Regions from separate parts of the Homo sapiens genome. Here region 2 is linked to region 1. The links come from fine-mapping of genetic effects on gene expression. Tissue or cell type: whole blood. Region 1 holds a variant in brackets; the other region holds the start of a gene. All regions are shown on one strand. Distances are from middle to middle.

Evidence for each region. PIP is the estimated chance that this variant, and not a neighbour inherited with it, causes the effect.
Region 2: it holds the start of KAT2B, and the variant in region 1 is fine-mapped to the expression of KAT2B in whole blood (INTERVAL, PIP 0.91).

Annotation. Positions count from the first base shown.
Region 1 is chr3:20,058,683-20,066,870 of GRCh38, forward strand. The region is part of intron 1 of KAT2B (lysine acetyltransferase 2B); the gene reads left to right. Among named protein-coding and RNA genes, the nearest start is that of KAT2B, 22 kb to the left of the region's middle. RefSeq lists an enhancer at 231-400. The variant A/ATATAT (reference allele first, on the strand shown) is at 3,152.
Region 2 is chr3:20,036,339-20,044,526 of GRCh38, forward strand. It overlaps KAT2B (lysine acetyltransferase 2B), which reads left to right and starts at 4,108. Exons shown (of 18, transcript NM_003884.5): 1 at 4,108-4,442. The coding sequence starts at 4,140. RefSeq lists silencers at 3,370-4,009, 4,180-4,309, 4,510-4,569 and enhancers at 3,733-4,703, 5,420-5,609, 6,971-7,140, 7,221-7,380.

The DNA.
Region 1 (8,188 bases):
TCTTCTGCTGGCCTTCCATGTACAACTGTGTGAACTGGAAGGATTGTCACACAGTGGAGGAAGAAAAAGGGCTTGTGTCCCAGGGAAGGATTACTGAACCATTTAATCTGTATATGAAAAGCTAAAGTTAATTCAGGGAGAAGAGAAAGGTGTTGCTGAAGTCAAACCATCTTTATCTCTTCAAATCTTGGCTACTCAAAGAGTGGTCTTCACCCAGGAACTTTTAGAAATGTAGAATCTCAGGTTCCACCCGACACCCACTGAATCTTAATCTTCATTTTGATGAGATCTCCAGGTGATTCCTGAGTAGATTGGAGTTTGAGAAGCACTACTCCTAATTACATCAGCATAATTCAAACTGCTCATTTCCAAAGAGAAAACTTCTGGCAATCCCAGCTGCTTACAGTGGACTCCAGGTGTTGTTTTTTAAAAATATTATTAAAATATCTTGCTGGGCATGTGGCTCACACCTGTAATCCCAGCACTTTGGGAGGCTGAGGTGGGCAGATCACTTGAGGTCGGGAGTTCGAGACCAGCCTGGCCAACATGGTGAAACCCCGTCTCTACTAAAAATACAAAAATTAGCCAGGCGTGGTGGCATGCGTCTAGTAGTCCCAGCTACTCGGGAGGCTGAGGCAGGAGAATCGCTTGAACCTGGGAGGCGGAGGTTGCAGTGAGCTGAGATCATCATGCCACTGTACTCCAGCCTGGGCGACAGAGACTCTGTCTCAAAAAAAAAAAAAAAAAAAAAAAGGCCAGGCGTGGTGCCTCACGCTTGTAATCCCAGCACTTTGGGAGGCCGAGGCAGGTGGATCACGAGGTCAGGAGATCGAGACCACGGTGAAACCCCACCTCTACTACAAATACAAAAAATTAGCCAGGTGTGGTGGCGGGCGCCTGTAGTCCCAGCTACTTGGGAGGCTGAGGCAGGAGAATGGCGTGAACCTGGGAGGTGGAGCTTGCGGTGAGCCGAGATCGTACCACTGCATTCCAGCCTGGGCGACTGAGCGAGACTCCATCTCAAAACAAAAACAAAAACAAAAAAAACTTTACTGAGTTATGATTTAGGTACCATAATATTCTCTAGTTTTAAGTGTACAATTCAATGATTTTTAAGAAATTGACAAGTTGTACAATCATCACCACAATCTACCTTTTAGAAGATTTCCATCACCTCCAAAGGATCCTTGGGTCCATTTACAGTTAACCCTGTTCCTACCCCCCACCCCAGATGACCACTAATCTTTCTGTCTCTATAAATTTGCCTTTTCTGGATGGTCATGTAAATGGAAGTATACAGTATGTGGCCTTTTATGATGGGCTTCTTATGCCGAGTGTAATGTGTTTGAGATACATCCATGTTGTAGCATATGTCAGCACTTCTTTATCTTTCATTGCAAGTAATAATCCGTTATATGACTAGAACACATTTTGCTTATGCGTTAACTAGTTGATGGGCATTTAGATTATTTCTGCCTTTTGGCTATCATGAATAATGTTGCTGAGGCATCTGCATGCAAGTCTTAGTATGGATATATTTCTGTTTCTCTTGGGTAGATACTTAGTGGATTTGCTGGGTCATGTGGTAAATTTATGTTTAACTTTTTGAAAAAATTGTTGTTTCTTAAAAAACTGTGGGCTGGGCATGGTGGCTCACGCCTGTAGTCCCAGTACTTTGGGAGGCCAAGGCGGGCGGATCACCTGAGGTCGGGAGTCTGAGACCAACCTGACCAACAGGGAGAAACCCTGTCTCTACTAAAAATACAAAATTAGCTGGGCATGGTGGTGCATGCCTGTAATCCCAGCTACTGGGGAGGCTGAGGCAGGAGAATCTCTTAAACCCAGGAGGCGGAGGTTGCAGTGAGCTGAGATCACGCCATTGCACTCCAGCCTGGGCAACAAGAGAGAAACTCTGTCTAAAAACAAACAAACAAACACACAAACAACAAACTGTGGTAATGCTGGGCATGGTAGCTCATGGCCTGTAATCTTAGTACTTTGGGAGGCTGAGGTGGGAAGATCCCTTGAGTCCAGGAGTTTGAGACCAGCGTGAGTAACATAGTAAGACCCTGTCTCTACCAAAAAATAAAAATAAAAAATAAAATAAAATAAATTATCCAGGTGTAGAGGTACATGCCTGTGGTCCTGTCTACTCAGGAGGCTGAAGTTGGAGGATTGCTTGAACCCAGGAGGTTGAGGTTGTAATAAACCATGATCATGCCACTGCACTCCTGGGCAACAGAGTGAGACCCTGTCTCAAAACAACAACAACAACAACAACAACAAAACTGTGGTAAAATATAGATGATCTAAAGTTTACCATCTGAACTATTTTTAAGTGTCTAGTTCATTGGTATTAAGAAATTCACATTATTGTGCAATCATCACCACCATTCATCCACAGAACACTTTTCAGCTTGCAAAACTGAAACTCTGTGTTCATTAAACAGTAACTCCCTCTTCCTTCCTCCAACCCCTCGGCAACCACCATTCCTATCTCTATGAATTTGGCTACCATAGACACCTTATCTAAGTGGAATCATACAGTATTTGTCATTTTGTGACTATTTTACTTAGCATAACATTCTCAAGTTTCATTCAGGTTGTGGCATGTGTCAGAGTTGCCTTTCTTTTTAAGGTTATATAATAGCCCTTTGAATGTATATACTACGTTTTACTTATTTATTCATCTCTTAAGGGATGCTGGGGTTGCTTGGACCTTCTTGCTGTTGTGCTTAATAATGATACTAGGACATGGGTGTCCAAATATTTCTTTGACTTCCTACTTTCAATTCTTTTGGGTATATACCCAGAAGTGGAATTGCTGCGTCATATAGTAATTCCATTTCTAATATTTTGAGGAACTGTCATACTGTTTTCCATAGCAGCCATACCATTTTACGTCTTCAGCAGGAATATTCAAGGTTTCCAGTTTCTCTACATCCTCTCCAACACTGTTTTCTGTTTCTTTTGTAGTAGCCATGCTAATGGGAGTGAGGTGGTATTTCATTGTAGTTTTAATTTGTATTTTCATACGTATATATGAAAAAATAATATATATGAAAAAATATATTATACATAAAAATATATAATTTATAATACATAAAATATATTATATATTATATATTATACATAAAGTATATAATATATA[A/ATATAT]TATACATAAAATATATATAATATACATAAAATATATAATATATTTGTATAAAATATGTATTATATATTATATATAAAATATGTATTATATATCATATATAAAACATAATATATATTATATATAAAACATAATATATATTATATATAAAACATATAATATATAAAACATATAATATATATTATATATAAAACATAATATATATTATATATAAAACATATAATATATATTATATATAAAACATATAATATATATTATATATAAAACATATAATATATATTATATAAAACATATATATATAAAATATATAATATATAAAAATATATAATATATAATATATATAATATATAATATATAAAATATATATATTTTATATAAAATATATTATATATAAAAATATATATAAAATATATAATATATAAAATATGATATATAATATATAATATATAAAATATAATATATAATATATAAAATATAATATATATAAAATATTTATTATGTATAAAATATAATATATAATATATTTTATATATAATTTATAATATATTATATATAACATAATAAATTATATATTATATATTATATATTATTATATATAATATATAATATATAGAAATTATATATATTTTATTTTATATATATATATATTAGAGGTAGTTTTGCTCTGTCACCCAGGCTGGAGTGCAGTGGCATGATCTCGGCTCATTGTAACGTCTGCCTCCTGGGTTCAAGCGATTCTCTTGCCTCAGCTTCCCGAGTAGCTGGGATTACAGGCATGCGCCGCCACGCCCAGCCAATTTTTGTGTTTTTAGTAGAGACGGGGTTTCGCCTTGTTTGCCAGACTGGTCTTGCATTCCTGAGCTCAGGTGATCCACCTGCCTCAGCCTCTCAAAGTATTGGGATTACAGGCGTGAGTCACCGTGCCTGGCCCATTTTCATAATTATTAATGATGTTGAGCATCTTTTCATGTGTTTATTGACCATTTGTATATTTTCTTTGGAGAAGTGTCTGCTCAAGTCCTTTGCCCATTGTAAAATTTCGTTGTTGTTGTTGTTGTTGAGTTGTAGGCATTCTTTATATATTTTGGATATTAACCTGTTATCAAATATATGGTTTGCAAATATTTTCTCCCATTCTCTGGGTTGCCTTTTCACTCTGTTGTGTATGTCTTTTGGTGCACAGAAATTTAAAGTTTTTCCTAATTCCAGTTTATCTGTTTTTCTTTTGTTGCCTGTGTTTTTGTTATTTATTTTTAGACAGTATCTTGCTCTGTTTCCCAGGCTGGAGTACAGTGGCACAGTCATGGCCCATTGCTGCCTCGAATTCCTAGGCTCAAGGGATCTGCCTGCCTCAGCCTTCTGAGTGGCTGTGACTGCAGGCGTGCACCACTATGTCCAGCTAATTTTTAAAATTTTTGTAGAGATGGAGTCTTGTTTGTTGCTCAGGCTGGTCTTGAACTCCTGACCTTCCCAGCGTGCTGGGATTATACACCTGAGCCACCACACCTGGCCGCCTGTGCTTTTGGTATTATATCCAAGACACCATTGCCTGATCTAGTATCATGAAGATTTTTTCTGTATTTTCTTTTAAGAGATTCTTTCTTTCTTTCTTTTTTTTTCTTTTGAGATGGGGTCTCGCCCTGTTGCTCAGGCTGGAGTGCAGTGGTGCGATCTCACCTCACAGCAACTTCTGAGTAGGCCTCTTTTTTTTTTTTTTTTTTTTTTTTTTTTTTGAGATGGTTGCTCTGTTGCCCAGGCTGGAATGTAGTGGCACAATCTCAGCTCACTGCAACCTCTGCCTCCCAGGTTCAAGCAATTCTCCTGCCTCAGCCTCCCAAGTAGCTGGGATTACAGACGTGAGCCACCATGCCCGGTTAATTTTTGTATTTTTAGTAGTGACAGGGTTTCACCATGTTGGCCAGGCTGGTCTTGAACTCCTGACCTCGTGATCCAACTGCTTCGGCCTCCCCAAGTGCTGGGATTACAGACGTGAGCCACCACGCCCGGCCGAGATTCACAATTTTATGTTGAAGTCTTTCATCTATTTTGAGTTCATTTGTGTGTGTGTTATTAGCTAAGGGTCCAGCTTCATTCTTGTGCACACAGATACCTAGTTTTTCCAGCACCATTTATTGAAAAGACTGTCCTTTCTCTATTGAATGGTCTTGGCACACTTGTCAAAATCATTTGACCATTATCTGTGAGGGTTTATTTCTGGGCTATCTATTCTGTTCCATTAGTATATAAGAAGCTAGCAAACTGTTTTCCAAGGTGGTTGTACCTTGTTACATCCCACAAACACTGTATGAGGATTCCAATTTTTCACATGCCTGATAATTTGTTATTGTCAGCTCCTTTTGAAAAAAGAACTTATTTTGTGTTTAATTGACACCTAATAATTATACATATTGATGGGGGCATAGTGTGGTGTTTTGAAACATGTATACATTGTGTAATGGCCAAATCAGTGTAATTAGCATGTTCATCACCTCAATCACTTGTCATTTCTTTGTGATGAGAACATTCAAAATCCTCTCTTGTAGCTATTTTGTAATATGCAATATATTATTGTTAACTATAGTCACTCTGCTGTGCGATAGAACACCAGAATTTACTCCTCCTATCTATATTTGGTTAGAGAGATCTTATTGGGTGAGAAGTTACGGTTTTGATCCTTGACATTTAAACATTATGACTTTGTCCAGCATGGAGCAGAGAGGTAGTGAATAAGAGTGAGTCCTTCCTCTCTCACAACCACAGTGCCAGTTACCTGCCTGGACACATTTTGTGCATCTGCAGGGTAGAATGAGTAACCCCAGGCAAGTCTCTTATCACCTAGAGCCTCAGCTTTCTCTTTTAATAATGGCAATAATTCATACTTTACTTACATCGAGTGAGATAAGAGTACATGTACATTTTTAATTTTGGGTGCTAAATAAATGTTGGATCAGTTATACTGAATAAATTTTCCATCAACGTGTTCTTGCTGTGGGACATCCTTGACACTAATTTAAGTTTTCCAACAAATGCGACTTTCCAATATTTTAAGCATGACAGAATTTTGCTAGACAGCTGGCTGTCTTTCTCCTGTTCCTCTGGATGCCACTCAAATATCTTCACACCCATCTCACTCATTAACACTGCGTGAACTGTGAGCTCTCCACCCCTTGTCTGTCTGTAATCTGGGTTGTGACTACTTGTTTATCCAGTTTATCTTCTTTCTCATCATCCATCCTGGTTTCTGCATACTATAACAACATCGGTTGCATACTATTGACCTCTAACCCTGGATCCTGTTGGGATGAAAACATTATCCCAGTCCTGTTGAAAGTAGTGCAGTGGCCTTTTCTTCTTTCTTGGTTCTGCAATGTCTGCAGAGATGTGCTCTTGGGGGGATGAAGTCATCTGGGTAGCTTTCCCCTCCCTGTGCCCAGGTTGCTAGCTGCTACAGTAATTGGCTTGGCAGTGCACTCCCTAAAAGGTTGTCCTTCAGCTGGTACTTCATTAAAGCTGCAAGGCCAACTCCCTTGGGAGTTCCCTTAGACAGCAGCTGTCATGCCTAATTAAGGAGAGACATGGGAAAGGTGTTTTGAAAGGAGACCTCTTATCTCGAAGAACAGTGGCCAGGCCTGAACATTGGAATGGGGAGATGAAGGCCAAAGTGGAGGGCATGGTAGCAGCAGCTCAGAAAACTTGGCAGAAAATGCTTTGCTGGCAGTCAAGGATAAGAGCATTGACTGTTTTTTAAAGGACACAGTATGTCCTTTTTAGCAAATCAAGTAACGAGTCCCATATATATTAAAAATTTTGTACACTTAGGTTGTTAGGTGTCCCATGGAGCATGCACACATGCAAGAACCAATTTTCATATCCTGCAAAAAATACTGAAACAAGTAAGGAAAACTCAAGGGATTCTCATATATATCAATAGGGTATAACTTTAAAGAGTTAGGACCACTTAGGGATGCTGAGACTATTCTATGCTTAAACTGTTAGGGTCCATAGTGAAGACCTGGGGCTTGGGGGTGGAGTCCCTTTATAGTCTAGTGCACCAATATCCAATAGTAATATGGAGGCCGCATGTATTATTTAACATTTTCTAGTAGTCCTGTGTATTAGTTTCTTAGGCCTGTCATAACAAATAACCACAAAATATGTGGCTTAAAACAACAAATACAGTTTTTTTTTTATTCACAGTTTTGGAGGCTAGAAGTCTGAGATCAAGATGTCATCTGGGCCACACTCCTTTTGAAGGCTGTAGGGAAGAATCTTTCCTTGCCTCTTCCTAGCATCTGGTGGTGCTTGGCAATCCTTGGCATTCTTTGGCTTATAGTGAGACCCTGGTCTGTCTCATAGTGAGATCCAGCCTCTGCTTCTATCTTCACTTGGCCTTCTTTACTGTTTGTCTGTGTCTGTCTCCAAATCTCCTTCTTCTTTCTCTTAGGAAAACGCCAGTCATTGGTTTTAGGGCTTAGGATAATTTCATCTGCATGTCCTTAACTGATCACATCTGCAATGAACCTATTTCCAAATATGGCCCCATTTTGAGGTTCCAGGGGAACATGAACTTTATTTATTATTATTATTTGAGACAGTCTCACTCTGTCACCTAGCTGGAGTGCAGTGGTGCCATCTCAGCTTACTGCAACTTTGGCCTCCTGGGTTCAAGCAATTCTCCTGCCTCAGCTTCCCGAGTAGCTGGGATTACAGGCATGTGTCACTATGCCTGGCTAATTTTTGTGTTTTTATTAGAGACAGGGTTTCACCATGTTGGCCAGGCTGGTCTCGAACTCCTGACCTCATGTGTGATCCTCCCACCTCGGCATCCCAAAGTGCTGGGATTACAGGCATGAGCCACCGCACCTGGCTGGGACATGAACTTTAGGGCACACACTATTTAACCCACTGCACCGCATTAAAAAAAAAAAATCAGAAAAGCCAAAAATTTAATTTTATTAATTCTAATTTTTACTTTAACTGAATATTTCAAAATATTATTATAATATGTAATCAATATAAAATAATTCTTAATGTGATAT
Region 2 (8,188 bases), 22 kb before region 1:
TGTGGTGGCACATGTCTGTAGTCCCAGCTACTTGGGAGGCTCAGGTAGGAGGATTACTTGAGCCCAGGAGGTCGAGGCTGCAGTGTGCCTTGATCATAACACAGCACTCCAGCTTGGGTGACAGAGCTAGACCCTGCCTCAAAAAGAAAAAAAAAAAGGTTGAATAAAATAGCACTAATGGCGCTGGGCATGGTGGCTCACGCCTGTAATCTCAACACTTTAGGAGGCCAAGGCGGGTGAATCACGAGGTCAGGGGTTCGAGACCAGCCTGGCCAACATGGTGAAATCCTATCTCTACCAAAAATATAAAAAATCAGCTGGGCGTGATGGTGGGCGCCTGTAATTCCAGCTACTCGGGAGGCTGAGGCAGGAGAATCGCTTGAACCCAGGAGATGGAGGTTGCAGTGAGCCGAGATAGCGCCACTGCACTCCAGCCCAGGCGACAAAGCGAGGCTCTGTCTCAAAAAAAAAAGAAAGCACTAATGGTATTTGGGGCATGGTTAAGATTCACACTGGAAATGATTTAATTCATAAATGCTTGAAAACTAGGGAAGGGGATTTTATGTTTCCTCATCCTAGGATTCATTTATTATTTTCAAAACTTTTTTCCTAGGAGGATTTATTTTATTTAATTTAAAATAAATGTTCAGTAATTATAGCCACTTCCCTCAGAGGAAGGTTGGCCCAAGGAGCCCCACTTAGGCATTGACATGTCTCTTTATTTTACACTCATATCCAACTGCTGTTTCTAAAAGCAGGTGTCTGGGAAGAATGTCAGTCATGGTCCATGTACTGGGCCAAACCTGCACTTTGACCACTTGATCTGTACCCTTACAGTCTGTGCCTTTACTGGGGATAATTTCAATCCATCTGTGGGATTCAGGGTTACTGGTACATTACAGAAGCTGTATAGCCTTGGTAGGAAGGAATATGGCAAGAAACTCTGCTAGATGATATAACAATAGATGGCCACAAAACTTGCCTTTTTTAGGAAGGCATCTCTGAGCAAGGAATACCAGATGAATAGGGTTAGCCATGCTGTTTGGTGGAGGGTATCCACATAGTACAGCAAATGCAAAGGCCCTGAGGTAGGAAAGCATTTCCTGAGTTTGGCTGAAGTATACTGCAGCACCAGGGAGAATGGGAAGGGGTGGACCTTATCAACTTCTTGTTATATAATCTCGTGTTCTGAAGTTGAAATTTTATTTTATTGCTATGTACCTTTTTAAATCTTTCCCTTACTTTTGAATTTCCCATGCATTTATTGAACATATACAAAATTGTGCTTATATGTCAATGTGAGTTTGTTTTTAACATAAATGGTATTATGCTGCACTGAGATTTATTCAACAGTGTTTCTTAGAGATCTATGTTATTATATTTTTATAAAGGTCATTGTGTATAACAGGTATAAAATATTCTGTTGTGTGAATATACCACAAGTAACCTCCAGTGGTCAGCCTGCCTCTACCATGCCCACTCTCCAAGCTTTTATTTTCTGAATGTAGCTTCTTTACCTCAGTAAGTGGTAAATACTTTGTAAATGAAAACATTGCCTTTTATTTTCTTGGTAGTTATTTCTTAAAAGTACTGTGTGCACAGAAAGAGCACACTGAATGCTTACAACAACCTAATTATGGAAAAGCAATAAGCCTCCTGAATCCTTTGCCCTTGAAATTTCCTTGCCTGGTGCTCATAACACACTTTGAATAGGTCTTGAAACCACGGGCCTTCAGCCTAAGGCAGTATGTCATCTGGGTACTCTGAGCAGGGAAATAATGAAAAATAATGTTCAGTTAATGGCACAAGCCATTCGCCACTCAGACAGTGATGGTTTTCAGAGTGGATTGAAAGGAGATTGGCTACTTCTGCTTCAAAACATCCTGGAAATTGTCTGCCTCCTGAATTCTGAGGGACGCTTGGGAGGAGGAGTTGATAGGTGACTTAATGTTAAATCTGGGTTCCCTCCCCCAATTGTCACTGTGAAAATTTTCAAACATACAGAAAAGTTGAAAGAATTGCGCACTGTGCCCATTACCTAGACTCTATTATATGGACCCCTATTTGCTTTATCATATCTCTGTTCATCCACCCTTTACCCATGCATGGAGGCATCCATACATCTTATTTTTGATGTATCTCAAAGTACAAAGAGCACCATTAGAGTTCAATGCTTGTGATTTTTCTTTTTTTAAAAATTTTTGAGGCAACATTTATATCCAGTGAAATGTACAGATCTCAAGTGGATCATTCCATCAGTTTGACAAATGCCTGCAAGGTGGAACCCAAGCTCTTATTAGTATCTGTTAAATCCATGTTAGAGGTTGATCAGAGAAGCACAGCCTTTAAGACTCTCACCCTGCTTTGCGGAGAATGGCAAAAATCTGCGAAACATCTCAGCAGAGCCAGGAGAGAGTAACACTGGTAACGTGAAGCACGTCAAGCTAAGAAAGGAAGCACTGAAATTAATTGTCCTGAATGGAACCTGATAAGAATCTGCCATTTCATCCCCTCAAGACTGGACTCAAGTTGGGAGAGAATATTGCCTTTTGCCCTGTCTAAGCTAATATCACTGTTTAGATCTACAAACTCCCCCACCTCCCAATGTTTATATATTAACCTGCATTACAAGTCAAAATAACACAGAGAATCTGGAAAAAGAAGAAGGGGAATGTTTCCCACGAAAAGCACACCCCTTAAAGCGTCTGGCCTGAGAGCTATACAGCATGCATAAAATCTGATAATAAGCACATTATGACCCACATTGCATATAACAAAAAGTAGGGCACTTCTGAAGGGTCCTGAGAAAAAGCCCTGGGCTTTTAAAACCTGCTTAAGAAGGCGATCAACGGTACACCACTTTCAAACGCAGCACTGACTTGTATGCTCCACAGTCATCAACAGTGAAAACAACAGTTTTCAACAAGAGTTGGAAACACTGAGTTGAGGGTTTTTTTTTTCTTTTTAAAGTTTGAGGCCAAAATCGATATTTATTCTTTTGAATTATGCTTATATCTTTTTCCTGGTTAATACGCACGCGGTGGCACAATTTTGAAAACTACGTAACGTTATAGAACCACCACCCAGAAACGAATCCTGTTAACAAACTTTTTGTATTCAAACTTTTTCCACTGCATAGTTTTTGACAATGCTTTTTAGACAATCTTTCTTTTAGCAACCAGCACTTTCAAACAAAAATTACAGAGAATAGTAAGTTTTTTTCCCCTCCTCCGGCAGATTTGACCCAGAAATTGCTATGGGAAGAAAGTGTTAATTATATTAAAAAATAGTTTGACAGAAAGTATTTAAAAAGAGAAAGGGAGAACATCACGTCTTTATTTTGGTGAATTAGCAACAAAGAAAAAGATTAGCATGGACGGGTACTTTTCAAAAATATATTTTTTTTCCTCTGGCTCCCGCTAGGGTGGAGGAAGTTGTCTCTCTGTCAGAGACAGGGTGGAAGAGAGTGAAAGGACAAATGATTGAGAGGCTGCCCCCTCCCACTGGTGCAGGCGTGCGGGGGTCGGATGGGGGGCCGCGGAGGGGGGAGGTGGCCAGCAGGTGCCTGGGCTCCAGGCCCCTACCCCCACCCTCGTCCCCACCCTCACCCACACCCAGGGATTGGCCTCGCCCCCTGGCGGGCGAGCGGTAGGTGTCGAAGCACTGGGGTGGGGGGTGCAAACCCCGCGGGCAGCGGAAAAGAGGCCGTGGGGGGCCTCCCAGCGCTGGCAGACACCGTGAGGCTGGCAGCCGCCGGCACGCACACCTAGTCCGCAGTCCCGAGGAACATGTCCGCAGCCAGGGCGCGGAGCAGAGTCCCGGGCAGGAGAACCAAGGGAGGGCGTGTGCTGTGGCGGCGGCGGCAGCGGCAGCGGAGCCGCTAGTCCCCTCCCTCCTGGGGGAGCAGCTGCCGCCGCTGCCGCCGCCGCCACCACCATCAGCGCGCGGGGCCCGGCCAGAGCGAGCCGGGCGAGCGGCGCGCTAGGGGGAGGGCGGGGGCGGGGAGGGGGGTGGGCGAAGGGGGCGGGAGGGCGTGGGGGGAGGGTCTCGCTCTCCCGACTACCAGAGCCCGAGAGGGAGACCCTGGCGGCGGCGGCGGCGCCTGACACTCGGCGCCTCCTGCCGTGCTCCGGGGCGGCATGTCCGAGGCTGGCGGGGCCGGGCCGGGCGGCTGCGGGGCAGGAGCCGGGGCAGGGGCCGGGCCCGGGGCGCTGCCCCCGCAGCCTGCGGCGCTTCCGCCCGCGCCCCCGCAGGGCTCCCCCTGCGCCGCTGCCGCCGGGGGCTCGGGCGCCTGCGGTCCGGCGACGGCAGTGGCTGCAGCGGGCACGGCCGAAGGACCGGGAGGCGGTGGCTCGGCCCGAATCGCCGTGAAGAAAGCGCAACTACGCTCCGCTCCGCGGGCCAAGAAACTGGAGAAACTCGGAGTGTACTCCGCCTGCAAGGTACGCGCTCGCCGCTCTCGGACCGCGGATGGGTGCTAGGGGCCCAGCCCGCGGGACCCCCCTCCCCCTCCCGCTTCCACCTCCGCCTCCCGCCTCCTGCCTCTCGCCTCCCGCCTGGGGCCGCTGCACCGCGGAAGTGCTCTTGTCGCCCGCGCCCAATTAGCTTCTTCTTGGATAAGAGTCCTGCTGGGTTTGAAGAAGGGGGATCACTAAGACGGAGAGCCCTTCATTCCTTCCGCTTGAAAGGAGTAGCTTCGGCATCCGAGCTCCCGGGCTACCTTGGGGTTTTGTTGCTCTGTAGGAGCTCGCTGGAGTCACTTTCCCGGGAGTGGAGCGGTGCTCTCCATGTGGCGGGTGACCCAGGGGCAAGGAAAAATCTTTTGGGGGACTGAGTGGTCCCTTCTGCAATCGATCCCTTCCTGTGTCCCACTGGGAGGAACTGGGTGCAAGGAGTGGGGGTGGAGAAGACTCCCGGACTCCTGGCGCTTTGGGAAAGCGAAGGGGAGGAAAGCGCGGGGTGGGAAGGTGGGCAGAGTCCGAGGCGAGGGTCTTGTGGTGCCTGGCGCCCTCGGCTGGGGGCGGAGGCACTGCCGCGCGCGGTGACAGCCCTGTCATTATTGTATTATTACTTGTTTAGTTAAAACGCTGTCCCAGCTGCTCGAGGTGTAAACAGGATTTGGCAAAGTGACAGCCCAGCGCGGCGGGCGCTACTGCTCAGTTTGAGGACACCCATTTCTTGCTACCCACTCTCCATGCCAGTTTAGGCACCCTGTCACCTCCAGCTGCAGATCCAGATGTGGAGGCTGTGTTCCCGAGGTGGGAGGATTGCCCGAGGCCGCGGGGCAGGCTGGCCCTGCGCTGTCAGCAGCGGCTTTGTTTTGACAGGGTGACAGCTGAGGGGGGCGGGGACTTGGCCTTGTCAGCTCCTGCGGCCTGTGGCTGAGGCAGGGAAGAGACACACTCACACACACTCACACCTCCCTGTATTCTTCCTGCCTGCTGTAAAGAGGGTCAAGTTCCCAGATTCCAGATTCCCGATTGTCACAACCAAGCTGCAGTGACCACTTCTGAATTTTGACATAACTATAATTTATTCTACTAGAACATCTAGGTTATACTCTTCTTGGTACTTGCAGGAGCTTCTCAGTCACAATGGAATGTCTATGCTTGCTCTTTTTCCACACCATATGCTCAGGTTTATGTTAAGCACCTCTGTATCCTACACTGGTTCAATAAATATTTGTTGAGTGAATGTAGGATCTAGCCCAGTGCTCCTCAAACTTTAATGTGCATGGGAATCTCCTGGGGAAGCTGGTTAAAATGCTGATTATGAATCAGGTGGTCTGAGGTGGAAGCTGAGAGTTTGCATTTCTGACAAACTCCCAAGTGATGCTATGCTAGTCCACAGACCACATTCCAATTCAGACCTGGACAATATATTATTTGTCCCCTTTGATTTTAGCAGAAAAGACAGAAACAAATAATAATGCTATGTGGTTATTTCTGAAGAAGGAATGCAAAAAAGATGAAGTGGGGAGTGTGCTTCTAAGAAAGGTGCAAGCCCAGGAGTTGATCATGAAGGGCATTAGACGAATGAGAACAGGACACCGACTGTAGTAGGCAGAAGGGCGAGCTATGTACAGAATTAAGAACAAGGTCATGGGTACAGGGCATACTGCTTGGGTGATGACTACACCAAAATCTCACAAATCACCATTAAAGAACTTATGTAATCAAACACCACCTGTTCCACAAAAACCTATGAAAAAAAAGAGCAAGGTCAATTACTTGGTGGCCTTGGCGTTTCGCAGCCAAAGTGGGCTCATGCAGGAACTGTCTCAACTCAGTGTTTCTGTTCTGGCTTTATTTTAAAATTTATTTATTGGGTTCTCATCACCAGCACCTCTTAAAGACTTCCTGCTGCCTGCTGTAGCTTTAATATCTGAAAACTTTCCTGAAGTTTTGGTTTTGTCTAAAACCATGAGCATATGTGGCCTGCATTGATATTTTTGATCTTTTCAAATTTCCATGGGTGAGATGTAGCACCACTTCCAAGTGGGATTTGAGTGTTTCCTGGTCACTTTCATGACCCAACAAGAGAAAGAGAAAATTTATTTTAACGTCTTTTTTTTTTTTTGAGACAGGGTCTCACTCTGCCACGTAGGCTGGAGTGCAGTGGCATGATCGTAGCTCACTGCAGACTCAACCTCCCTGGGCTCAGGTGATCCTCCTACATCAGCCTCTTGAGTAGCTGGGACTACAGGCATGCGCCAGTACACTATTATTATTATTATTTGTATTCTTTGTAGAGATAGGGTTTCACCTTGTTGCCCAGGCTGTTCTCAAACTCCTGAGCCCAAGCAATTTGCCCGCCTTGCTTCCCAAAGTGCTGAGATTATAGGCATGGGCCACCATGCCTGGCTGAAAGTGTTCATTTTTATGTATCCATTCATTCAGTAAATATTTAGAGGGTTACCAACTGGGTGTCAGGCATTGGGCTAGGTGCTGGGCCTATGACACACAGAATTTGTCCTTCAGGAGTTACTTATTGTGTGTGTGCACAAGTGCATGTGTGTGTATGCATGTGTTGGGGGCCTAGGGATGAGGGCAGTGAACCAAAATTACAGAGAAGTTCAGAAAAACTACTTTCTTGGAGTAGTTGCGGACCCAGAGCAGGACAGTTCATAGACTGGGGCACTGGTAGGGTGGGATTGGCTTCCTGGAGGAAGTGTCAGTGGCTGCTAAGAACTCTTGGCAGGGCAGAGTGGGGTGGGGTGAAGCTTCTTGTAGTGGAGAAACTGAAAGCAGTTGTGGAAGCTTGGAGGTGGGCCAACTGAGCCAGACCTTTGTTGCCTAGGGCCACCGGCTGGGGTGCGTGGCCAAGAGGGCACTGAGGAGTGCAGGAATCTTAACCTGGAGAGTGACATTATCTCAGATTTGCTTTTTTTAAAAAAAAAAAAAATTTAACTGGACTTGATTGGGTACGAGGGAGTGTAAGAGAGCAAAATCTGTGGTTCTCTCTCAGCTTGTTTCTGCACTTAATATGAGCAAGCCCAAAAGGACAGATTGCTCTACCTTTGCCACAGGCCCCTTGGCAAGTTAGATTAGAGAGATTAGAGAATGAGGAGGGATCTAGAAAGAGATAAGGTAGTTCACTGGGGGGCTTTTGAAAGAAAAACAGGTCCCAGGCCTGATATAAATCTGGCCTTTAAACTTCACAAACGAAACCAAAAAAGAAGGGAGCTAAGTCAGCCAGGGTGACGTGCCACACCCCAGAGAATAGAAAAAGAAAAAAAAAAAAGAAAAAAGAAAAGAAACAAACAAACTTGTTTCGCAGGATCCAGATCTTTGAACTGTGTCCTGGTAAAGGTTGCTTCAGAGTCATTTTGGTTCTGTGTTCATTAAAAATGTAGATCTAGGCCAGGCGCAGTGGCTCAGACCTGTAATCCCAGCACTTTGGGAGGCCGAGGCGGGAGGATCACTTGAGTCCAGGAATTTGAGGCCATCCTGGGCAATATAGTGAGACTTCGTCTCTACAAAAAATAAAAAATTAACCAGGCGTGGTGGCAGAGGTTGCAGTGAGCTGTGATTGCACCGCTGTACTCCAGCCTGGGTGACAGAGCAAGATTCTCCCTAAAAAAAAAAATAAATAAATAAATAAAATAAAGTAGATCTGACCATGTTATACCCACACTTCAGGCCCTTTAATTTCTCTTTATTGTGGTCCACAAGGCCCTGCATGGCCT